Homo sapiens: one gene and its partners. The protein of the gene in region 1 interacts with the protein of each later gene in a pairwise test. Each region holds a gene or a part of one and is shown in the gene's direction. Other genes may lie near its edges. The genes, in order: LNX1, CEP72, TMEM239 and TRIM68.

Evidence for each region.
Region 2: the proteins of LNX1 (region 1) and CEP72 interact in binary tests that used the Homo sapiens proteins (3 or more experiments, as listed by UniProt).
Region 3: the proteins of LNX1 (region 1) and TMEM239 interact in binary tests that used the Homo sapiens proteins (3 or more experiments, as listed by UniProt).
Region 4: the proteins of LNX1 (region 1) and TRIM68 interact in binary tests that used the Homo sapiens proteins (3 or more experiments, as listed by UniProt).

Annotation. Positions count from the first base shown.
Region 1 is NC_000004.12:53,458,793-53,462,513, reverse strand, and holds the end of LNX1 (E3 ubiquitin-protein ligase LNX), read left to right. Parts: intron 1-920; coding exon 921-1,079; coding exon of another isoform or gene 1,080-1,083; exon of another isoform or gene 1,084-1,471; coding exon 1,472-1,607; 3' UTR 1,608-2,985; coding exon of another isoform or gene 2,986-3,212; 3' UTR 3,213-3,213; downstream 3,214-3,721. Other genes in the region: FIP1L1 (pre-mRNA 3'-end-processing factor FIP1), read right to left, coding at 3,065-3,212.
Region 2 is NC_000005.10:636,314-643,348, forward strand, and holds part of CEP72 (centrosomal protein of 72 kDa), read left to right. Parts: intron 1-1,203; coding exon 1,204-1,505; intron 1,506-2,775; coding exon 2,776-2,911; intron 2,912-4,094; coding exon 4,095-4,291; intron 4,292-7,035. UniProt on the Homo sapiens protein: Involved in the recruitment of key centrosomal proteins to the centrosome.
Region 3 is NC_000020.11:2,811,435-2,818,579, forward strand, and holds TMEM239 (transmembrane protein 239), read left to right. Parts: upstream 1-4,981; intron 4,982-5,072; coding exon of another isoform or gene 5,073-5,120; coding exon 5,121-5,579; 3' UTR 5,580-6,628; downstream 6,629-7,145. Other genes in the region: uncharacterized protein C20orf141, read left to right, coding at 3,751-4,010, 4,104-4,341.
Region 4 is NC_000011.10:4,598,229-4,605,263, reverse strand, and holds the end of TRIM68 (E3 ubiquitin-protein ligase TRIM68), read left to right. Parts: coding exon 1-185; intron 186-1,923; coding exon 1,924-2,019; intron 2,020-2,851; coding exon 2,852-3,112; intron 3,113-3,577; coding exon 3,578-3,600; intron 3,601-4,136; coding exon 4,137-4,237; intron 4,238-4,437; coding exon 4,438-4,988; 3' UTR 4,989-6,592; downstream 6,593-7,035. UniProt on the Homo sapiens protein: Functions as a ubiquitin E3 ligase. Acts as a coactivator of androgen receptor (AR) depending on its ubiquitin ligase activity.

The DNA of each region.
Region 1 (3,721 bases):
AACAAAATAGCCATATCTGATTTTTGGCAACATGAAAATGCCAATTTCCTTTCAAACCAATTCCCGGACTACAGCTACAAATGTGGTCAACAACGTCATCCTGGAGTAAAATTCAGCTCCTGACACACACTTCTATGGCAATTATAACATAGTTAACACTTGGCCTGTACCTATATGAACACTGATCCATTGGGGGCCACTGAATAAAAATTTCTTCAATCTCATTTGCTATTTTAGTTGAGGATTCTAATTTACAGAAGAGCTGGGCCTTTCCTTCTCCCATTCCTTTTATAACTTCCTATCCAGTTTCCTGCAGTTTGTTTTTCCTCCTATTTGAATTGTTCTTATAATCTTTAAACGTTTCTGTTTCCATTCACTTTATGCGTGCATGCTTCTCTATGACTTATCAAACGTAGCACTGGGTGTAAAGTGGTATTTTTCCAAGGTCAAAAAAAGTATACGAATTCATTTATTAGGATTAGGCTTAAACTGCTTTCATTGAGATTATTCAAAGGATTTTTGCCCTCATTAAAATTATATCAAGTAAATAAAAATATGACATCCATAAGTGTGTTTGTTCACCAATAAGGATTTAGGTTTATCCAACTTTTTGCTAATACATATTCAAGCATTGTCTTAAGTTAAAAATATGATTATCATTCCCAGTAGATGTGTAACAGAACACAATAGGGCTGTCAGTTTTTTAAGGATATTCAAAATTATGGAAAACAGGTTCAATTACAAAAAGCCAGCTAACAGCACAAAGGTCACCAAGGTATGATACAATTTTGAGTGGGACCTATGCAGTGGTACTTAGCCATTAAAAATGCCAACAAAAGGAATGGAGGATGAGTCACAGTAAGTATTCCCTTAACTGTGAAACTTAAATATGCATGTACACTGATTACATTCTATTTCAGGTGCTTGTATAACTGTAAAGATATTGTATTACGAAGAAACACAGCTGGAAGTCTGGGCTTCTGCATTGTAGGAGGTTATGAAGAATACAATGGAAACAAACCTTTTTTCATCAAATCCATTGTTGAAGGAACACCAGCATACAATGATGGAAGAATTAGGTAATAATAATGACTAATCAAAAATACTTGTATTAAATGTTGTTTCATAAATGCCAAAGCTTGGCCCCATTTGAGATAAGGCATGTATTTATTATACTTTGTGGGGATTAAAAGTATGTACGTAGCATTCAACTTCTGAGAAATCCAAAATAATTACACATATTCTTGGTCCCATACTACAACTCCCCATACTTTTAGCATTCCTTCTAACACAAGCTGAATGGATAGTGAGTTTGGAGAATGTAAATAAGAGGCAAGAAATATCTCAATTAGAAGTTAACATAATTAAAATGGTCAGATGTAGCAAAATCTAGCACCACTAAGATAAACTTGCATTAACTTCAGCAACGAATTAAAATACTAATCATATCTTGTTTTGTTTTTTTTTTTAGATGTGGTGATATTCTTCTTGCTGTCAATGGTAGAAGTACATCAGGAATGATACATGCTTGCTTGGCAAGACTGCTGAAAGAACTTAAAGGAAGAATTACTCTAACTATTGTTTCTTGGCCTGGCACTTTTTTATAGAATCAATGATGGGTCAGAGGAAAACAGAAAAATCACAAATAGGCTAAGAAGTTGAAACACTATATTTATCTTGTCAGTTTTTATATTTAAAGAAAGAATACATTGTAAAAATGTCAGGAAAAGTATGATCATCTAATGAAAGCCAGTTACACCTCAGAAAATATGATTCCAAAAAAATTAAAACTACTAGTTTTTTTTCAGTGTGGAGGATTTCTCATTACTCTACAACATTGTTTATATTTTTTCTATTCAATAAAAAGCCCTAAAACAACTAAAATGATTTGTATACCCCACTGAATTCAAGCTGATTTAAATTTAAAATTTGGTATATGCTGAAGTCTGCCAAGGGTACATTATGGCCATTTTTAATTTACAGCTAAAATATTTTTTAAAATGCATTGCTGAGAAACGTTGCTTTCATCAAACAAGAATAAATATTTTTCAGAAGTTATAGTTGTCTTTTAGTATGTGATACTAATTAAGATTACTTTTGTATTATCACTATTTAAAAGATCCTAGTAATTTATTCTTTCAAATACCATGTTATTTGTTACCATCACCGATGAATACCTCCTAGGCTTATCCCTAAAAATGCTCGCTCAGAGAATTAATTATAAACTTGTTTTGTTTTTAGTAAGAAATGGCTAAAGCTCTTTTTTTCCACAATCGTTAGTAACTGTATAAAAACTCATGCTGCTCCACCAGTGGGCCTTGGAAAATGCATCAAGAAGGCCAAACCAGCTTGACCCTGGCTCACAGACATGGTCATGAGGCGATTTAAATTTGTGCCACAATGAAGAGTGTGTGTACACATGCCTCCTAGAAACTACACTATGGGTAATTAATTAATTTATTTCATAGAGGCCACCCAGATGCCTTATAGGTTTTATTAATTTGGATATGAAAGTGTACCCCATTTGGTTTCACCAGGAACCCAAATTTAGAATATTGAAAAGCCATCAAAAAGTTGTGATATCAAAAATGTATGAGTCTCTTAATATACTAAGCAAGAGTGTCACAGCAGTAATGATAAAGACTAGTTTTAATCTCAAGCCTTAGAGGGGCCCTTTGTTGCCTTTTGTGATGCAGCCTCTTAAGAGAGTGGTGTTTGATTAACAAAAAAACTGTGGCCCAAGTGGAACCCTTGACCTTTTCTCAGATAATCTGTGTATGTACACAGCTAACACAGCTCTTTAGATTCCCTGTTAAGTGACTCATTCACATTCCTTTCTTGGATATAAAGTCATTGCTGTCTTTTTATTTTTGAAATAGTACAAGACAAAGATTTTTAACTTAACATGAAAAATTCACTCTTTTATTTTGGAAAAAAAGTTAACTTTTCATACTAACAAACAGAACAAGATTTAAGGTAAATTTCTTAAACATTATCCAGAAAAATAACAAGATTTATAGTATCTACTTCTGGTACTAATATACACAAAAGGCCAAAACCATGCCTATTCTGCAGGTGTAGCTTCGGTGCTCTCCTGTTCAGGGGCAGGCTCACTGCCCGCTTCTTTTCCTTCTTTGCTTCTTTTAGATTTTTTGTGTTTGTGTCTCCTGTGACTATCTCCTTCTTCACTTTCATGGCGACGTCTACTATTACTGGAAAAAAAAAAAAAAAAAAAAGGTGTGTTCTGTTTAAATACACAATCAGTGACAAAAATCCAATCACTCTAAGGAAATTCTCAATATAACACTGGGTTTAAAATAATCTAATGCATTTTCTCATAAATATAATGTGAGGAATAATCAGTTTTATGTGACTTTTATGCAGGGATTGTATTTATTTTATAGGGCCATCTTCACTGATATTATCTCAGATTCCCAGTGCCTATACACAGCTTCTGAAATGCATATTATAATATACAGTAACAAATTAGAAACAGGCATTAACTCAAAACCGGAAATACTGTATAGGGTTGATTTTTGGCAAACAATAGGTATTTTGTTTAATGCTTTTTTAAAAAAATTTGAGACAAGGCCCTGAATTTTTCTTTAATGAAACCAAGCAAGACTGGTTCATAGGCCAAAATTTCCCCTCTTCCAATGCGACAATGTAGTAAGTCAAAATCTCTCACATACTATTGGTTCACTATTTTATTAAAGAGCAA
Region 2 (7,035 bases), on another chromosome or scaffold:
GGTAAATAAGTGCTTTTTCTCTGCACGTGTGTGTGTGCACACCCTCCCTCACCCTCTCACTAATGCACACACACTTTTAAGTGTATGGGCCCAGGTTATGGCAATAGCTACATTTTGAAAATCAAAGGCGAGAAAAGTTAACCAAGAGTGTCACGTGATACCATGTGATGGCCACCTATGTGGCATAAGTATCAGAAAACCTCCTGCCGTGAGCAGGCCAGACACGGTGGCTCACGCCTATAATCCCAATATTTTGGGAGGCCGAGGCAGGCGGATCATTTGAGGTCAGGAGTTTAAGACCAGCCTGGCCAACATGGTGAAACCAGGTCTCTACTAAATATACAAAAATATCTGGGCATGGTGGCGGGCACCTATAGTCCCAGCTACTCAGGAGGCTGAGGCATGAGAATCGCTTGAACCTGGGAGGTGGAGGTTGCAATGAGCCTAGATGGCATCACTACACTCCAGCCTGGGCAATAGAGCAAGACTCCAACTCAAAAAAAAAAAAAAAAAAGAAAAAGAGAAACCTTGTCTCGCGTGACCCTGGCGCCTCCTGGAAGCTTGCTCATGCCCAACTGGTGAGAGGCAGGGGACCTAGCCAGGTTGTCTGTCAGCCGCTGCAGGATGTGATGGGTCATCTTGAGTTGAGCAGGCTGTGGTGGAGGCCAAGGCTGTGCCCGTTTTGTGCCTTCTCCTGCCTTCATTGTCCTTCCACAGACAAGTTTGCCTTCCCCCGGGTCTTGTGTGTCCTGGGGGCTTAGTGGTCGGTACAGTGCACGGGACCCACCACTTTACGGACCATCAGAGTCTGTCACTTCACCTGTCTTCAGAGATGGGCGTGTGCTTAGACGTTGTTTGGAACGCGTTGTTGAAGCGTACTGCACGTCGGTCATCACGGGGTGAACACGCGAAGCTGGGCGGTCCGTGTCTGCTTCATCCAGACTCCCCCAGAGTTTGCGTGTTAGCACGTGTGCCCCAGTATGCCCCTTTCTTCCCTCGGCACCCTCCCTCTGCATGTGCCTTTGTGCAGGTGTATGGATGTATGTATGCACGTGGATAGGTGTGCGTGTACATATGTAAGTGTGCGTGTGTGTCCATGTGTGTATATACATGGGCACACACATGCCTTTTAAAAGTTACAGTGCTGAACACTGCACCCAGAGAATTTGGCCTGACGTGCGCCCCATCCTCTCTATATCTCAGACTCCATGGATACCGAGGACTCGGCCTCTTCTCAGAAGTTGGATTTGTCAGGAGAAATGGTGCCTGGTCCCCTGCCAGCCCCCGGAAAGTGCAGGAAGCGAAGAATGCCTGTTGGAAGATTCCAGACGTTTTCGGACCAGGAGGGTTTGGGCTGCCCGGAGAGAACTCATGGGTCCTCCGTGCCCAAGGAGAGCCTGAGCAGACAGGACAGCTCAGAAAGCAGGAACGGGAGGACCTTGTCTCAGCCTGAGGCCTCGGAGACTGAGGAGCAGAGGTCTCGGGGTGTGACCGACACCAGAGAGGTGAGAGAAGGGCTGGGGAGCAGCAGGCCCACGGCACTGCCTCCCTAATGTGGGGCTGTTACGGCTTTGGCGGGGCCGTGATTACGCCTGCGGCACTGACTGTGTCCCTCCCTGATGCAGGGCTGTTACGGCGGTGCCGTGATTACGCCTACGGCACTGACCGTGTCCCTCCCTGATGCGGGGCTGTTACGGCTTTGGCGGTGCCGTGATTACGCCTACGGCACTGACCGTGTCCCAGGATAAAGGGAATCATCACACTTAGGGTTCCAGGGTGCTTGCTGCTGCGTTTTGTTGGACGTGTGCCTCTGTGCCACACGCTGTCCTGCGCTGCTGTTCTGAGTGGAAGCCCCGTGGTGGAGAGAGGGGACTCTGCCTTACGGTGCACAGGGCATTTGTCTCCAAAGCTGGAATCGGGCATCTTGGCCGGCTGAGCCATTGATGACCCTTTCGTGAGGGGAGGATCCTGGAGGTCGCTGTGATGAGAGACCGAGTCACTCCACCCTCAGGGTGACCTAGAGGTCAGGGGGACAACTGGCGCAGGCCCAGTCAGAGGCGTTGAGACACACCTGCTGTAGACATGAGTGCAGACCACCCAGAAGGGAACAGGCAGGGGCTGTTCACTTGGTACTTGCCACAACGAGGGCTTCAGACTCCCATGCAGGCAGAGGAGCTTGAAGGTGCGGAACTGTGGGACAGGAAGGGAGGCATGGCCGGAGCTAGAGGCAGCTCCGTAGCAGCATGGGGTGGGGGGGGGTCCCAGAGCTGGGTGGGGCGTGTTTGACGTCCCCGGCAGGTCCTGAGCTGGAAGGAGGCAGAGATGGGGGAGGTGGGCGGTCTGTTTCAGGGTTATTGTTTGACTCCGGGCCATTGCTGGGGACAGCGCCTGGCACCCTCTACCAGCCTGACTGTGGGTGCAGGCTGCTTCCTGGGCAGCTCCTTTTGAACACAGGCTCTGACTGCGGCCTGGATGTGTCTTCCGCTTCCCTGTCTGGGTTGAGGGGAGGAGTCTGGGGCCTGCTTGAGTTGGGAATGTGTGGGCCCCGTCCTGTCCTGTCATCGAGACCTCACTCATCCAGGACCGGTGCACCTGGCTAAGCCTCACTGGGCAGGCACTGCTGAGCCGCCCTCCACCTGGCTCAGGGCTGGGGCCTCAGGGCACCTGTCCTCCCCTTCGTGGTGCGAGGGCATCCCAGGGTGCGCTTGGGCACCTGCTGGCATTCAGGACCTCAGTTACTGACTCGCTGGCCTCATGCTGTTGTTTCCATCACAGCCGTCTCCCGGGTCACACTCGGCTCTACCCGGGAAGAAGACGGCCCTGCAGGCGGCGCTCCTGGAGACGCTCTTGGACCTGGTGGACAGGAGCTGGGGCGGCTGCAGGTCCCTGCACAGCAACGAGGCATTCCTTGGTGAGTCAGGGCGGCCACTGCTCTTGCCCTGTAGGCAGCGTCTGTGTGGGTTCCGGGGTCCTCTGCGTGTGGTGACCTAGGAGTCATCTCAGCCCCAGGTCTCCTATGTCCCCTCCCACGAGCGTGTGGTGGTCCCGCGCCTGGGCCCTCCCTGGCAGTCTTTGCATCTCACAGTGTCCAGGGCTCTCGGGAGACACCACATGGGCCTGGGCCTGTGGGTCCCCCGCTGTGCTCTGGGGTGTTGGGGGGCCTGTCACCTCATTTTGCTCAAAATGCTGTCCAAAGGGGCTTGGTTCTGATGGCTGTGATCACATGGGGATTTGGAGTTTGGAAGCTGCTCAGCATCTTCTCCCCCGACCCAGACGTGTAGCCTGTGCTGGGCCTGGATTGCAGAGCTTTTGGTTGGTGTGGGACCCAGGAGGGTGGTCCCTCCCCAGAGAGGACTTGGGTCTGTTGGATTCTACCAGGCAACCCGTACATGAGCACACTGGGGCCTCCCTCATCCAGGATCACACTGGGAGACCAGGAGATGCCGCGTCCCCAGGGGCACCTTCTCTTTGTCCTGCATCCTGGGGTGTGGCTGTGTGTGTCCCTCAGGAGCCTAGCCAGTGTGCTTCTCCCCGCAGACCCTGGGCACGGCTCTGAGCTGTCTGACTGCGCCTTGCAGTGTTATAGCCCCTCAGCTCCTAGAATGAGGACGCCCTGCAGTCGCAGCCCACCTGGACCCCAGCCCCATAAACCTCCCCTCTCCCTAGGCTGGTGTCCTGTGGGAGCCTCCTGAGCTTGCCATCGTCGGTGGCGGGGGGACTGTCCCAGGCCCAGGCCACTGTCCCAGTGTGGAGTTGCCAGCTGTCGTCTGCATGGTGGTTTCCACACAGGGCAGTCGGTGCTTGTGGAAGGCGCAGCGAGTTGTGGCGGCGCCACTGAAACCTTGAGACGTGGCGGCCCCTGGTTGCCCCTTTTCTTGGAGGTCACCTCTTCTCTTTCTTCAGTTCCCACCCTGCCCGTGTGTGGACGCACAGAGCCTGAGGTGGTTTTGTGGCGCCAACACCCCTTTCCCCTCTCCCTACCTGTCGTCTTTTTGAGGCATCGTCTGTGTGATTCAAAACATACTGAGCCGATTTTGTTTACATTTCATCCTTTAAGCCTAAGTGCTAATGTAATATTTGGTTTTCACTCCTAGCTCAGGCAAGACACATCTTGTCATCTGTTGAAGAATTCACAGCAGCTCAGGACAGCTCTGCGATGGTGGGTGAAGATGTCGGCTCCCTGGCTCTGGAGAGTAAGTCCCTGCAAAGCCGCCTTGCTGAGCAGCAGCAGCAGCACGCCCGGGAGATGAGCGAGGTGACGGCGGAGCTGCACCACACACACAAGGAGCTGGTGAGCCCGCCCTGGCGCTGTGTCTGTGTCCATGTGACTGGGGGAAACATGGCTCTGACTTCCAGGAACGAGGGCAGCTCCTTGATGCCACACTGTCCCAACTGCCATCTCTGCAGCCCCATGTCTCCACTCCCTGCCCGGGACCCGGCCACCCCCGGAACGCGGCCTGCCCTGTCTCACAACAGGCCTGGAGCACTTTGGAGACAGCAGTGGCGCTGGCCACCTTCTCTCCCCGGGCCCAAGGGACCCTCCACCACTGGGCAGTGCCGGGTGCTGCAGGAGCCAGGCCTGGACGTGACTTTGTCTTGCTGACCCATCTCTCAGGGCCTCGAACTGGGGAAAACCGAGGCCACTCTCCTTTTATGAAGGAGATGACGGCCAGTGTCCCATGGTGAGCTGGGGCTACAGGGCAAGTTACCCCAAAACCAGCAGCTGAAAACCTGCATTTATCACCTTGGATTTCTGTGTATTGGGCCTCAGGCTCAGCTCAGCCAGGCTCCCTCCTTCCGTCTCAGCCGTGGGCCGGGGCCGCCGTCTCATCTGAGGCCTCATGGGGGCTCTGTCTCAGCCGTGGGCTGGGGCCACCGTCTCATCTGAGGCCTCACGGGACAGGATCCTCCCAGGCTCCCTCCACGCTGCAAGGGCCTCCCCACGGGCTGCTGGCATCCTTAGCACAGGGAGCTGGTGGTCAGAGAGCCACACCCAGGCAGAAGCCGCCCTCCGGGAGTCCTGGTGTGAGGGCAGAGCCACGTGAGGATGTGCACATCCAGAGGGGCCTTGTCAGCATCTTTAAATTGCGAGTGAAGTCGGCCCGGGACGGCTTCGAAAACTGCCTCTGAACTTGTCTGACAAGTACATACTGTCCGTTTCATGGGAACCAACATCTCAGAGATCCCACACAACGCTTCCTCTTTAGAGAAGAAAAACACAGCAAAACAACACAGGCAGCCTCTGTTTAAACGCACGTGGCCCCCCCACCCCGCCTGGAAGCCTCTGCACGTGGCCTTCATCTGGAAGCCTCTGTATTTAAACACATGTGGGCCTCCTCCATCTGGAAGCCTCTGTATTTAAACACACGTGGGTCCCCATCCCCCGTCCAGAAGTCTCTGCATTTAAACACACATGGCCCCCCATCCCCCATCCAGAAGCCTGTGCATTTAAGCACACGTGGTCCCCCGTCTAGAAGCCTGTGCATTTAAGCACACGTGGTCCCCGGTCCAGAAGCCTCTGCATTTAAGCACACGTGGTCCCCCGTCCAGAAGCCTGTGCATTTAAACACACGTGGTCCCCCGTCCAGAAGCCTGTGCATTTAAACACACGTGGTCCCCCGTCCAGAAGCCTCTGCATTTGAACACACGTGGTCCCCCGTCTAGAAGCCTGTGCATTTAAGCACACGTGGTCCCCCGTCTAGAAGCCTGTGCATTTAAACACACGTGGTCCCCCGTCTAGAAGCCTCTGCATTTAAGCACACGTGGTCCCCCGTCCAGAAGCCTGTGCATTTAAACACACGTGGTCCCCCGTCCAGAAGCCTCTGCATTTGAACACACGTGGTCCCCCGTCTAGAAGCCTCTGCATTTAAACACACGTGGTCCCCCATCTAGAAGCCTCTGCATTTAAGCACACGTGGTCCCCCGTCCAGAAGCCTCTGCTTTTAAACCAACGTGGCCCCTCCTCTGGAAGCCTCTGTATTTAAACACACATGGCCCCTCATCTGGTGGAAGCCTCTGGATTTAAGCACACATGGCCCCTTCTCTGGAAGCCTCTATATTTAAACACGTGTGGCCCCCCGTCTGGAAGCCTTTATACTGAAACACACGTGACCGGCTGTCTGGAAAGTGAGCTGGGCGCCGTCACTGATGATGTCTTTTCTGTGGGACACAGTCAGGCACACCCCTTGCCCTTCTGAGCCTGGGACGAGACAGAGCTGACAGGCGGAGCCCAAAGGTGTGCCGAGCACCAGTGCTGCCAGGGGTGAGAGTCACATGCAGCTGTGGCTGCCGTGGACGCCTGCTTTTTTGCCCTCTGCAGTTTGCCTAACCCCTGCAGTTTGCAGGCAGCCCTGGGCCTCTGGACAGAGCAGCCCTGGTTCCCTGTCAGGGTGAGTGATCCAGAAGAATCTGGCAGCCCGAGCCCCGCGGGTAAGGAGCAGTCAGCACCGTCAGGAACCCCGCGGAGGGAGCAGCCGTGCAGGCTGGTGGGCACTGCTTTCCAGGGAGGCCCACATCTGTCACTCCAGAAGCACCCAAGTTTACTCTGCCACGTGAGGACGCTCATCCCTCGGTCACATGAACCTAGACCTTGCTTCCTTTGGAAGCTGCAGTCGGGTGTCCTGAGGCAAGGTGGCCCCACTTCCAGCTGCTGTGCCTGGCACGGCCTCTGAGGCAGATGGGCTGCGCCCAGCTTGGGTGCAGTCGGTCCTCTGTTCCCTGCACCTGTCGTGGCCTAGACTCCAAAAAATAAAAAATTAGGTGTGGTGGCACACTCCTGTCATCCCAGCTATTTTGGGAGGTAGAGGCAGGAGGCTCAGGAGTTGGGGGCTGCAGTGAGCTGTGATTGCTCCACTGCCCTCTAGTTTGTGCGACAGAGGGAGACTTTGCCTCAAAGAAACAAATGAAAAAGAGCTGGGAGCTCACAGCCCTGCCTTAAGAGCTCACCGCATCCTTGGGAGGCAAAACCATGAGACGTGGCACTGCCAGGAGCTTTCTGGACGACCCAAAGCCCCGCGCGGAGGGCAGGTCATGCTG
Region 3 (7,145 bases), on another chromosome or scaffold:
TTGTAATGGAAGAGTCGGCTCTATGCCTTTCCCAAGCCAAGCACTTTTAGTTCTTTTTGTTATTTCTCCTGTCTTTATCTCTATGCTTAGATTTCTTGCTATTTCCTTTTTTTTCTTTTTTCTTTTCTTTTCTCCTTCTTCTTCTTTTTTTTAAAAGACAATTTCTTGCTCTGCTGTCCAGGCTGGAGTGCAGTGAGCTGAGGCTCACTGCAACCTCTGCCTCCCAGGCTCAAGTGATCCTCGTGCCTCAGCCACTCAAGTAGCTGGGATTACAGGTGCCTGCCACCATGCTCAGTTAATTTTTGTATTTTTAGTAGAGATGGGGTTTTACCATGTTGGCCAGGCTGGTCTTGAACTCCTGGCCTCAAGTGATCTGCCCACCTCAGCCTCCCAAAGTTCTGGGATTACAGGTGTGAGTCACTGTGCATTTCTTGATTTTTCTTTATGTAGTTGTTATCTGTGGATTTCTGCTATGAAATTAAGGCGTTAGTTTTTCTACCACCCTCCCCTCAATACACACATCCAGATACACAAACATACACTCCCTCCTTCCATTTTCAGTAAAGCTCAATTGCTATTTGGAATCAATATTCAGTGCTTTTGTTATGACTATGTAAATATTATGTTTAAATTTGTGCTACCTGGAGTTAGTAATTACTTTGTTTTTATCATTTGCTTAGTTTTCTAGGCATCACTCATTAATTCAATCGCAAAGCTTCCAGTGTAACTGAACATTTACTCAATATAGCCAAACATAGCTAATAATCAGTTGATTTCATTTTCCTCTGGAGACATCGCTCCTAGAGCACATCTTCTGATTTCAGGCTGGGTTGGTTACTTTCTTTACCCGGGGGTATAGTTGACATCCCAGGCCTTTCTCATCGTCCCTTTTCTGTGCTTAATCTCATTTATTGAATGCCATATTGCTCTCTTTCTTAGTTTAATTCTTTGTTTTGCTGAAGCACATCCTCCAGTAGCTTTCTAAGAAAGGGTATATGCAAGGTCAAATTTCTGAGACCTTGTATGATTGAAATGTCATTATTCTACCCTCCCAATTAATAATCATTCAGACCTATACATTTCTATATTAGACATCATTTTGAGGGCATTTATTGTCTTCTAGCTACCAGTATTGGTGTTTAGAAGTGTGATACCATTCTTGCTTCAGATCCGATGTATGTGATGTTTTTATTTGGTGGAAGCTCTTAGGATTGTCTTTTTATCCCTGCTAATGTGAATTTCATTATATGCCTTGATGTTAGCTGCCCTGTTTCATGTATTGGGCTGTGAATTGGTGGAAAGTTATGGTCTAGAGAATCATGTCCTTCAATTCTGAAGAGTCTCTTGATTTTTAAAAATCTTTCCCTTCTGGTCGGGCAGGGTGGCTCACACCTGTAATCCCAGCACTTTGGGAGGCTGAGGCGGTCACATCACCTGAGGTCAGGAGTTTGAGACCAGCCTGGCCGACATGGTGAAACCCTGTCTCTACTAAAAATACAAAAATTAGCTGGGTGTGGTGGTGGGTGCCTGTAATCTCAGTTACTTGGGAGGCTGAAGCAGGAGAATCACTTAAACCCGGGAGGCGGAGGTTGCAGTGAGCCAAGATGGCGCCATTGCACTCCAGCCTGGGCAACAAGAGCGAAACTCTGTCTCAAAAAAAAAAAAAAAAAAAAATAGAAAGAAAGGTTTTCCTCCTCAGAGCACTCCCTCAATAAACCATGTGTACAAGTATCCCCATCTCAGGCTCTACTTTTAGAAATTATGACCCATTGATATAGTCTGAATATTTGTCCAAATCTCAAGTTGAAATCTCAAATCCCAATGTTGGAGGTAGGGCCTGATGGGAGGTGTTTGGGTCATGGGGGTGGATATTTCATGGCTTGGTGCTGTCCTTGAAATAGTGAGTGAGTTCTCTCAAGATCTGGTTGTTTAAGTGTGTGGCAACTCCCCTAACCACCACTCTCTCCCTTGCTCTTCACCCTTTGCCTTCTGCCATGATTGGAAGTTTCCTGAGGTCTCCCCAAAAGCAGATGCTGGTACCCTACTTCCTGTACAGCCTGCAAAACTGCAAGCCAATTAAGCCTCTTTTCTTATAAATTACCCAGTCTCAGGTATTTCTTCATAGCAACGCAAGAATGGCCTAATACACCCACCATCTGGTGCAGTGCCTGGCACATAGGAAGCACTTAAATAAATGATTGTTGAATACAAAATAAACTCTGAGAAAATCACAGACAGAACTCTCCTATACATGCATACAGAGCACCTGGTGCATAGTAAATCTTTAAGGAGCTTTAGACTCTCCGATCCCCCCATGCCCTGCAATATGGAGTAGCCTCATCTTGGTGGACTCATCAGGACATGCTCCCCAGGTCTGTATGTCCAGGAATGCAATTGTGTGGATGCATCCAGGATTGATCAGGCTCAGGGAATTGCCAATCTTAAACCTTAATGTTCCTTTACAAGCACAATTGGAACTTAATGCCAAAAAAAAAAAAATTCTGGGATCTTCTGTTATACCCTATCCCATTACGGACAAATCTACTCGTAAAACCCAGCTGCTGGATAAGCAAGAACAGCCAGACCAAGGGCGATCAGTGCATGGTCATTAGGGCTGGTGACCCTCGTCTCTGGGCAAGGCCTGCTGGAGGTGGATATGCAGCCTGATTCTTGTTCTGTCTCCTCCTCTCCTAGGGGCTGTATGGCCACTGTCTCCCATTTTGCCACCCCTACCAGTTTTCCTTCAAAGTATGATATGTGGGCAAAGATTAAGTTCTCTTAATTATGACACATTTCCGCTCTTGCCTCTCAAGTCACTAAACTGAGATGTGCTGGACCCCTATGGCCACCACCCATTTACAGATGATCAGTGTAATCTGATATACTGATAATCCAAGTGACTAAGCCCTTCATTATATGTTCATTTTCCTTAACTCCATTCTCAGACTGTAACCTTAACCTCTAATAAGGGGGTTACTAGGTCATAGTCCTCTTAAGTTCATGTCCTCTACCTCATTACTGGAACCCCAGTATGCATAACACCCCCTATAAACTGTAGTGCTTAGAATACCTGAACAGCCCCCTCCTCTCTCACCCCCATTTAGCAGGTTATGCGGAAGCCCAGCCCCAGAAGCCTCAGGCAGTCCCCTGGCAGAGCCCATCTCTGCAATCTGGAACTTCAGGCCTGAAAAATCCCCTAGAAGGACCCACAGGGAAGACAGCTGGGGACAGAGATATTGAATGACTTCGCCCTGGACCTGCAGCTCTGCAAACTCACAGGAAGAAGAAAGCAGACCTCGCTCCCTTGGACAGATGCCCAAGTAGTAATGGGGTTAGAATGCCTTCCTGACAACTCAGATCCCCAAGGGAGGGCCCTAGGGCAGAGAATCAGCAAAGGCAAGAGGATGAGTCTTAGTTCTCAGAAATCCCTGACTTCCCAGCTAAGCCCCACCTAGGCCACCAGCTGCTTATGAGGTCAGAGCAGCAGCAGCAGCAGCCCCCTCCCTACCCCACGGCCCCACGTGGTAACAGGTCACAATGCCCCGGGTGCCCACTCCCAGAATGCTGACCAAAGTGGGAGGAGGTGAGGAGGGTTTGCTGGGTGGGTATGGGGGAGGGGGAGACTCTGCAGGAGCCTAATTCCCCACTCTGAGCTCACCCTTCTGTCTGCCCGGGCCCTACCCCTTCCCCTACTCTCACCCTTATAATCCTTTTCAGCACTAGGTCTTCCCGTCACCTCCACCTCTCTCCATGACCCGGCTCTGCTTACCCAGACCCGAAGCACGTGAGGATCCGATCCCAGTTCCTCCAAGGGGCCTGGGTGCTGGGGAGGGGTCAGGTAGTCCAGTGCGTCCACCTGTATCCACCTGGGGCCCTAGCTGGGCCCAGCTCCTGGACAGTGTCCTATGGCTGGGGGCACTAGGACTGACAATCCAGGCAGTCTTTTCCACCACTGGCCCAGCCCTGCTGCTGCTTCTGGTCAGCTTCCTCACCTTTGACCTGCTCCATAGGTAAGTGGGCAGCAGCCTGGCAGGTGGGCATTGTAGGCGGGCGGGCCAGTGGACAACTTCCCTAAGCCCAGTCACCACCCTCTCTCTCCACAGGCCCGCAGGTCACACTCTGCCACAGCGCAAACTTCTCACCAGGGGCCAGAGTCAGGGGGCCGGTGAAGGTCCTGGACAGCAGGAGGCTCTACTCCTGCAAATGGGTACAGTCTCAGGACAACTTAGCCTCCAGGACGCACTGCTGCTGCTGCTCATGGGGCTGGGCCCGCTCCTGAGAGCCTGTGGCATGCCCTTGACCCTGCTTGGCCTGGCTTTCTGCCTCCATCCTTGGGCCTGAGAGCCCCTCCCCACAACTCAGTGTCCTTCAAATATACAATGACCACCCTTCTTCATCAGGCCCCCTTTTCTCCTTCCTGGCTGGGCAGGTGGGATGATACCCCTTTCTTCCCAGCCTGAACCTCACAGTCCTATAATATAGGTATCAGATACCTGGATCTGAGTCTTTGGGCAGCAAGAGAAGGTAGGATACTAGCCAGGGAGCCCAAGGAAGAATGTGGCAGCCACCTCAGAGCCTGTGGATTGGGGGCAGCCACTCTGGCCTCCTCTGTGGCTCTAGAGAATGAAGGTCCAGACAGAAAGACTTGCGAGAGAGCAGTTTGGAAAGGGGTGGATATCAGCCAGCAGGGAAAGCAGGAAAGGGACAGGGATCCAGGGAGGGCTTCCCATGAGAAAGCATGAGAAACTACATCTGCGGGGCTCCGAGGCTCCCCTGCCAGCCTGGAGGGTCCGTGCAGAGGGACTTGGGTGGGCCTCACACCCTACAGTGACTCCTCTCTTGGCTGGACCCCACCCCAGCCCGGGTCACAAAGGGGCTCCTCTGGGGAGGGTGGGGGTAGATGAGAGTGGGGACTTGGATCTGCCTGCCAGGCCGTCCTGGGCGCTGCAGGAAGCAACATGACTTAGGTAACTGCCCAGAGGTAAGTCCCAGTCCCTAATTCTGTAGCCCCACCCCACGCACACTGGTGCCCTCCTGACCCCTGCACCCCCTCTCTGCCCCCCCCCCCCAAGGTCCCAGGCATCTTCAAGACCCTGGCCCTCTCCCCAGGTGCACCAGACATGATGCAGCAGCCGCGAGTGGAGACAGATACCATCGGGGCTGGCGAGGGGCCACAGCAGGCAGTGCCCTGGTCAGCCTGGGTCACGAGGCATGGCTGGGTGCGCTGGTGGGTGAGCCACATGCCCCCGAGCTGGATCCAGTGGTGGAGCACCTCGAACTGGCGGCAACCGCTGCAGCGCCTGCTGTGGGGTCTGGAGGGGATACTCTACCTGCTGCTGGCACTGATGTTGTGCCATGCACTCTTCACCACTGGCTCCCACCTGCTGAGCTCCTTGTGGCCTGTCGTGGCCGCGGTGTGGCGCCACCTGCTACCGGCTCTCCTGCTGCTGGTGCTCAGTGCTCTGCCTGCCCTCCTCTTCACGGCCTCCTTCCTGCTGCTCTTCTCCACACTGCTGAGCCTTGTGGGCCTCCTCACCTCCATGACTCACCCAGGCGACACTCAGGATTTGGATCAATAGAAGGGCAACCCCATCCCACTGCCTGTGTCTGTTGAGCCCTGGCCTAGGGCCTGAGACCCCACGGGGAGAGGGAGGGCAATGGGATCAGGGCTCCCTGCCTTGGCAGGGCCCAGACCCCTAGTCCCTAACAGGTAGACTGGCCTGACCCCGGACTCCTTCCTCAAGTCAATGCTGCAGGTTCCTGGTGTGAGGGGCTGGGGGCTTTGAGAAGAGGGGGCAAGACAGATGGCTTAGCCATTGGTGAAAATTGCTTAGCCAGGGGCAGAGCTTGACCAAGCCACTGATAGCGCCCATATGGATGTGATGATACCCGTGGGGCCCCCTTGGCAACTGACAGCATCTTTTTCTCATAGCCACTCAGCTGTCTCAGCTTCAGACTCACTGAGAACTTCTACCTGGGTACCACTGGCCTTGCCATTCCTCCCACCAATCCCCTCTTTCCACTTCCAGGAGAACCACAGACTCTAGAGAGGGTCCCAGTGACAAAAATCTATCAGGGAGAAGGCTGGCCAGAAGCCCCAGGAGACCTCAACTCACTCGCTCTCCAAACCTTGCAGCCCACGCATCCTCCTCCCTAGACTTCCTACTTCCTGCCTCAGTCTGCATCCCCAAGTCTGAGAAATGGGCCAACTGGGGTCAGACAGCACCTACTCACTCTCTAAGAATCCCAAGGTCTGTTATGGAAAAATGATCAAGAAATCCCATTTCACCCACTTACACAATGTGTGGCCTTGGCCAATTAATTCATTTGAGCCTCAATGTTACGTGGGCCACTTCTGTCATGGGGTTGTTGTGAGTCAAAGACAATATCTATTTGTGAAGCATTTTGTAGAAGCCAAAAACCTGTAAGATGTTGTTTTGAGCTCTAAGAACTTTCTGTAGGCGCATAAGATCTTTTGACCCCAAAGACTGTTGAAGGAACAGGAAGCTTCTCTGGGCTTTCAGATCAACTCTCTGTCCTGGATAGAATTTTGGCCCTAAAATGGTAAACAAGAGGTCGGTTAAGTGTGTACAAGATGTAAAAGGTCATGTGCCATGAAATCTCAAAATGTGCAGATGTTGAACTATTTTGATTATGAAATGCTTGGGCCTGGGGCTGGGTGCCAGATGCTTGCACAGCTGTGTGAGTGGGGACAGCACAGCCCCAGGGTTTCCAAAACTGACCCAGCAAGCCGCTCAGGCACCAGAAGGGCTTTGGAAAGGGCAATCCTTTGATGCCCTGAATGCTGGCCGTTCGTTCACTTGCTGGCCCCTCCAACAAAACATTGAGTGATCGGTAATTACCAAGTAAGGTACATGATAGACAACTTTATCCACACCTGACCCCCACCCAAGCCCTGGCCATCCCCAACTCCTGCCCAGTTCTGATCCCTGCTTTATGTATAACCCTAAAATCCTTGCTCTTGAAGCCCCAGACCCAAGGTCCCCCTCTTTTGTCCCATAAATACTCAGGGCCTTGGGGCTAGCCCCTAGAACCCTGGTTCATTTTTGCCTTAGACTTTTGCAACCCTCCATGCCACGGATTAGATGCCTTCAGCATCAGTGCCAAAACCCAAGGTCCAGTCC
Region 4 (7,035 bases), on another chromosome or scaffold:
AAGTCCGTCTGCTAAGGCTACATCCAGGAATGGGGCTGAAGGGTGACCTGTGTGAGCGCCATGGGGAAAAGCTGAAGATGTTCTGCAAAGAGGATGTCTTGATAATGTGTGAGGCCTGCAGCCAGTCCCCAGAGCATGAGGCCCACAGTGTTGTGCCAATGGAGGATGTTGCCTGGGAGTACAAGGTGAGAGATGGAAGCTGGCCACTCCAGTCTAACCCCGGCCCCAAGTTGGCTGTTTCTAGATCAAGGGCTTGACCACCAGCACCACAGACTGAGAGCTAACTCCTTTGGTTCCTGACACCCAGAGATCCCTGGAATCTGATACAGAGAGCTATACCTTTCCTTGTATTCATGACCTTCCTTGATTTCCTGCTCTCCCACTTCCTCTACACCTACATCCTAACAGGGCTCAATTCCTAACCCAAGGCTGATTTCAGTAATGAGAATGTGAAGGAAAACAGTTTGGGTTTTAACTGAGATTCTGGATGCCTTGGATGAGTTTAGGCATGAGGCTCTTATATAGATGGTCAAGGCTACACCTGACCTGCAAACTCCTCCTAGCAGTGCTGCAAGTAGTCATTTGGCATTGAATGGATCACTTCCCTCCTTCATTTTATAGACAAAAGTGAGGCTTAGAAAGTTGAAAACATGGCAATTTATTTTAGAGGTGGAAAGAACTATGGGTGAGTCACAAGATTGAGAGAGGTCATCTGATATAGTCTTCTCAGGTCCTTTCTGACTTCAGGTCCAGTTAGTGAAAGGAAGATCAGAGGCTGTGACTCAAGTCTTCTTGCACTTTCTCCTCTCCCAAGTTTGTTTGTTTGACAAGTCATCTCTGACAAACCTGGGACTCCTTTTTTGTAGCTAACCTCATCAACTTCCAGCTTCTGGGCTTCTCTTTACTCTTTCATCAGATGCCCATAATGACATCTTTATCGGAACCATTATCTCAGTGATTCTGTGATCCAGTGATCCAGCATTGGTCTCAACTCTCTTTTTTGGAGTTGAAATAGGAAGGTGAGAGTGTAAGACAAATCCCCTGAATTAGCTTTTTTCCTATATGGGAGGGATTTCTAAAATATGAAAAGTATTTACTAACTCATTCTGTTTTTGAGACTATTAGAAAAGGGAGCTAGTATAACATAGGGGTAAAGGGCTGGATGAAATCCCAGCCCAACCATTTATTACCTGAATGACTTTGGGTAGGTCACCCTCTAAGCCTCAGTTTTCTTGTCTATAAAATAAGGTTAATACCAGCCTCAGAGGATTGTAAGTATCACATGCATATTTAGAGCTGAAAATATACCTGACACTTGATATATTTTAACAAAATAGTTGCTATTTTGTTAAAATAGCAGAATTAAATGGTGTTTCTGCACAGTTTATGCTTTTCAGTAGAAATCCCTTGCATTACTATTCTAGGAAAGTGCTTCTTACCCTTAATAAGCATATGAACCACCTGGGAGATCCATCTAAAATTGAGATTCTCATTTGGTAGGTCTAAAGTAAGGCCAAGATTCTGCATTTCTAACAAGCTCCTAGGTGATGTGGATGCTGCTGATCCACTTGAACCACATTTGGAGTAACAAGGTTCTGGCAGACAGTAAGATAAAAATAAATAAGATAAGGATAAAAATTGGCATGGAAAGGAAAGTCCAAGGTACTTTTGTGGAGAGGTTGTAAATGGACCTTTTCTTCCAGTTTACAGACATTTAGAGACTGTGGGAGTTGAAATGATTCTCAGCCCAGAGAGCTACCTCGGATGTCATCTGGGCAGAGTCTGCTTCCTCTGTGGCATTCCCTTTCCCCACAGCCTTCACTGTGGCCGGTTGCCTGAAGGACTCTGGTTCTCCCATAGCCTCCCAGTGCTAGGAAGCCTAGGCTGCCGGAGGTGGCCTCATGAGGGTTTTGTCTCTTGCAGTGGGAACTTCATGAGGCCCTCGAACATCTGAAGAAAGAGCAAGAAGAGGCCTGGAAGCTTGAAGTTGGTGAAAGGAAACGAACTGCCACCTGGAAGGCAGGTTGCCTCGTGGGGAAAGGAGTTTGTGTCAGTCGTCCTGTGTGGTCCTGGAGCTGGCCTAGGGTAGCATTCTCATCACTGTGAGGCAGAATGTGAGGCTTGAAATCACAGAGCCTAGGGTTCTAATCCCTGCTTTCTCTGTCCCAGGCCTTAGGTAGGCCACGTCACCTCTTAATTCCAGTTTCTCCATGGGGATGTAGGGATAACCTCTGGTCTTGTATCCTCCTATATGAGAAAGGAAAAGCACATGCTCACGTGTGTCAGCTCACAGTGGCATGGCTTATATCATGCTTGTAAAGCAGAGTTTCTCTTTCATTTTCCCAAGTTAGAGAATATTTGCTAAGAGTCTGGTTATTAAAATATTGTAAAATCACCTCTGAAATAAATTTGAGGCCAGTAAGTATCAAACTACTAGAACTTTTGATCAACAGAAAGTAACACTGAACCAATCTAAAACAGCATGTTGAACAGATATAATATCAACATGAAAATGAACCACCTAACAGTGTAGTTAAGTTACACTGCCTTAGAGACTTAAATGTAACACATCTTGTCATTATTCTGAAAATGGAAAATAGTCTAGAGCATGTAGTATTAAGATAATATCCTGGACCCTACTGGAGTCAATAAGAGTGACAATAGAGACCTAGAAGCATGTGGTGGAGCTGGGAGAACAGGAAGCTAGGAAAAATAGTATCCTTTATCTTTGCCCCTGCATAGCCTGTCACGTGGTTGGTACCATTGCAGAGTATGTGTGTATGCATATGTCAGTATGCTCGATACTGGGTGACTGAAAGTATCAGTGCTGATTTCCATCTTGGCTCCACAGATACAGGTGGAAACCCGAAAACAGAGTATTGTATGGGAGTTTGAAAAATACCAGCGATTACTAGAGAAAAAGCAGCCACCACATCGGCAGCTGGGGGCAGAGGTAGCAGCAGCTCTGGCCAGCCTACAGCGGGAGGCAGCGGAGACCATGCAGAAACTGGAGTTGAACCATAGCGAGCTCATCCAGCAGAGCCAGGTCCTGTGGAGGATGATTGCAGAGTTGAAAGAGAGGTCGCAGAGGCCTGTCCGCTGGATGTTGCAGGTGAGTAGTAGGTTTTCCTGGTAACCCTGAGTGACAGCTGAAGATAGACTGAGACTCCAGGAGAGAGCATCAGTTACCCTTCAGTAGGGACTGCCAGCCCTCTGCCAGCTGGTCATGGATCCTGTGTTTCCCCAGCTAATACCTGCTGTTTCCCTATCCCTGGCTGGTGGATGACCTGGTCTGTTGTAGCATCATAGGTGGGGCAGTGCTCAGGCAGCTCTGGCGTCATTCCAGGCCCTCTCCTCTAGCCCGAGAGTCTTGAGATGGAGCCTGAAATTGGCCAGTTCAGCCAAAGCTCAGCCTGCTCTTCCATCCTTCCATAGGCTTCTCCTTACCTCTGCATGGCATCTCTCCATTCTTGGTATCTGTCTCCCTTCCCCTAGAGAAACTCCCTGCCAGTTCGATGTCTGTTCCCTCTGAGGAATAGCACTTACTCAGATGCTGCATTTTTTTTTCTCCTTCCAGGATATTCAGGAAGTGTTAAACAGGTATGTTCTCACCCTTGGAGCCTCTAAGCAGCCCTGTAGGGGATAGTGAGGCCTAACTAGAGCCAGAAGTAGGGACGGAGCACAGACTCGGTGCACACAGAAAAGCAGGTGCTGGTCCACAGTCTCGTCCCACTTACATGGTAATGGCTAAGGAATCTTTGTTGATCTTTCCTTTTTCTTCTTTGTACTTGATCAAATGTATATCAAGTGAAGCTGTAAAATATGTGGTTTCAAGTAGATTGCTCAAAGAGGATAAAAGACTGCCCATGACTCCTTCATGTCCGACAGAAAATGTGTGCACTTCTTCCTCTCCCAGAATCAAATATACATCCAACCCTTCCCATAGCATGGGCATGCAGGTGTTCTCACCTCTGCACACAAACAGCTTGAGGCTCAGCCAAATAACCGTAACCATCATGTCTCTGCTTTGCTGGGGTTCACTATGTCCCTGGCCAAGCCCCTCTTCCCTGTACTAAGATAAGGCCCATGTGACAAAGCCGGGACTCCTGGCCCTGAGGTTCACCCTCCTCTACCAGGAGCAAATCTTGGAGCTTGCAGCAGCCAGAACCAATCTCCCTGGAGTTGAAGACAGATTGCCGTGTGCTGGGGCTAAGAGAGATCCTGAAGACTTATGCAGGTAATGGATCCTGGGGGAGACTGTAGTGGACAGTGGGAGGGACCCCTCCCAGAGATAGAAAATGGTTCAGTGCCCTCTGGGTGCTCCATCCAGCCTCACCCCTTCATCATTGAGAAATCTGTGGCTGAATTTATCAGAGGGCTCTCACCCATGTCCCCTGGCCCTATATCACTGTTACCAACCAGGACCTTTTCTTCTAGCTGATGTGCGCTTGGATCCAGATACTGCTTACTCCCGTCTCATCGTGTCTGAGGACAGAAAACGTGTGCACTATGGAGACACCAACCAGAAACTGCCAGACAATCCTGAGAGATTTTACCGCTATAATATCGTCCTGGGAAGCCAGTGCATCTCCTCAGGCCGGCACTACTGGGAGGTGGAGGTGGGAGACAGGTCTGAGTGGGGCCTGGGAGTATGTAAGCAAAATGTAGACCGGAAGGAGGTGGTCTACTTATCCCCCCACTATGGATTCTGGGTGATAAGGCTGAGGAAGGGAAATGAGTACCGAGCAGGCACCGATGAGTACCCAATCCTGTCCTTGCCGGTCCCTCCTCGCCGGGTGGGAATCTTCGTGGATTATGAGGCCCATGACATTTCTTTCTACAATGTGACTGACTGTGGCTCCCACATCTTCACTTTCCCCCGCTATCCCTTCCCTGGGCGCCTCCTGCCCTATTTTAGTCCTTGCTACAGCATTGGAACCAACAACACTGCTCCTCTGGCCATCTGCTCCCTGGATGGGGAGGACTAAGAAAGCTACCACCCTAACCAGAGAGGCTTGGAATTGGGCCTGGCCCCCATGGGGCTTGGAGGACCGAGCCACTGACAGGTATCCCCTGAAACTGAGCTGAGCCCAGTATCCAAGGATTCCTCTGTCTGATCCTTTGGTCTTTGCTACCAGGCTGAAGTCTGTCATGAAACCACTTATTTTAAAAAGCAGAGGCCCAGTCAAATGAGCATTGCATCCCATGAGGGAAGCACGACAGGGCTGATGGTGAGGATCAGAGCAGTTCTAAGGTGACTCGTTGGGGTAAGGATCAGGACTTTGTCCATGTAGTAGCCAACCACCCTCTTCCCTGATTCCCGTCCGGTGTCACAGTTCAGTCAGTGAGGATGATGAAGTAGATACAGTCTTCAGGACACCATTAGATGGGCTTTCCCAATAGGCCAAAAAAATGCTGCGCATACCCAGAGCTGGTTGTTGTGCTGAGGCCAGTCAGAGGATGCTTCCCCTGAGGTTTGCTATAACTAAGCAACCTTTATGTGACTCTCACCTTCTGACCTCCTGGCAAGAGAAATTCAGTGCAGCAGGGGGACACAGACCTGCCCAAGCCACCCCACTGCCGTTCCCTCTCTGAGCACAAGCTGGGCAAATCACTGTCCCTTGGACTCCAGGAGACCAGTGTCCTAGTCTTGCCTTTTTTCTCTAAGTGGCAGGATCAGAAAACCTGCGAGCTTTAGTTTGTATTTTCACTTTATGAATGAGGAAACTGAAATGGCCTTAAGGGAGCAAGTTATTTCTTTTTTTTTGACACGGAGTCTCACTCTGTTGCCCAGGCTGGAGTGCAGTGGCACGATCTCGGCTCACTGCAGGCTCTGCCTCCTGGGTTCACGCCATTCTCCTGCCTCAGCTTCCCGAGTAGCTGGGACTACAGGCGCCCACCACGACGCCTGGCTCATTTTTTTGTATTTTTAGTAGAGACGGAGTTTCACCATGTTAGCTAGGATGGTCTCGATCTCCTGACCTCATGATCCGCCCTCCTCAGCCTCCCACAGTGCTGGGATTAGAGGCATGAGCCACTGCGCCCGGCCCCTGGAGCAAGTTATTTCTTACAAAGCTGCTGAAGGTAAGATTATCAAAATTATAAAGCATTTTTCACACTCAAGTGAAACAAGGTTGACAAACTCACTTCGCAGGTCACATGCCTATACATCACTTATTATATTTGGGTCTGAAACTTCTCACATGTTTGGGAGGTTTTATGTGTCCTCATTGGGAAAATGGGTGTAATTCAGCATAAAACCTCATATGATTGTCCTGCCTCATGGAGCTGTTGTATAGATCCCAGATCCATCCCATGATTTGTTCCTGTCTGAGGCATAGAGGCAGGCAAGCCGTGGATTTTGCACATGGTGACTTTCCCACTGTGCCATGATACAGTCTGCATCTTATAGCAGTGCCTTTGTCTCAGGGCCTCTGCTGGCAGTCTAGACCTTTTGGGCAGAAAGGAGCTTCAAATGGCTGTGATAAGGAATATTAAAAATTGTGTTTCTACTTTAATTGTATTGGCTGTTCATGTATGTAGGAGTTAAAATAGGCCAAACTGGAGAAATAAACGCATTCTGTCCACCATGCTTCCAGACTGCTTCTTGAGAATCAGTAGTAGAAGGGGAGAAGTTTCCATCAGCTGCCTGGAGGGGAATGAGCTAGTGAGGCACAGACCCTGGTGCTGGCCAAGGGTTGAGCCTGCCTCAATTAGAGGAGCATCTTTGTCAGGGGATTCCCTGGGGGTAACTGAGAAGTAGGTCCCTAGGAAGGACTTCAGTTCTGTCTGTGGACAATTGGGACAAAAGGGTTAAGGGAAAATCAATGTTGTTCTTTGGCTATTAAGACAAATCTTGGAAGGTTCCTAGAAACGGAGGATTGTTAGCTGATAAATTCATTCGAACTTAGAATGAAGGAAGGAATGAAATGGCCTCATTTGTAATGTACTCTTTTTGGTTGGTTTGATTGTTTTTTACATTTATAAGCCTGTTTGGGTACTCTGATTACTTGTTAGAAGACTCGTAAGGTTAAA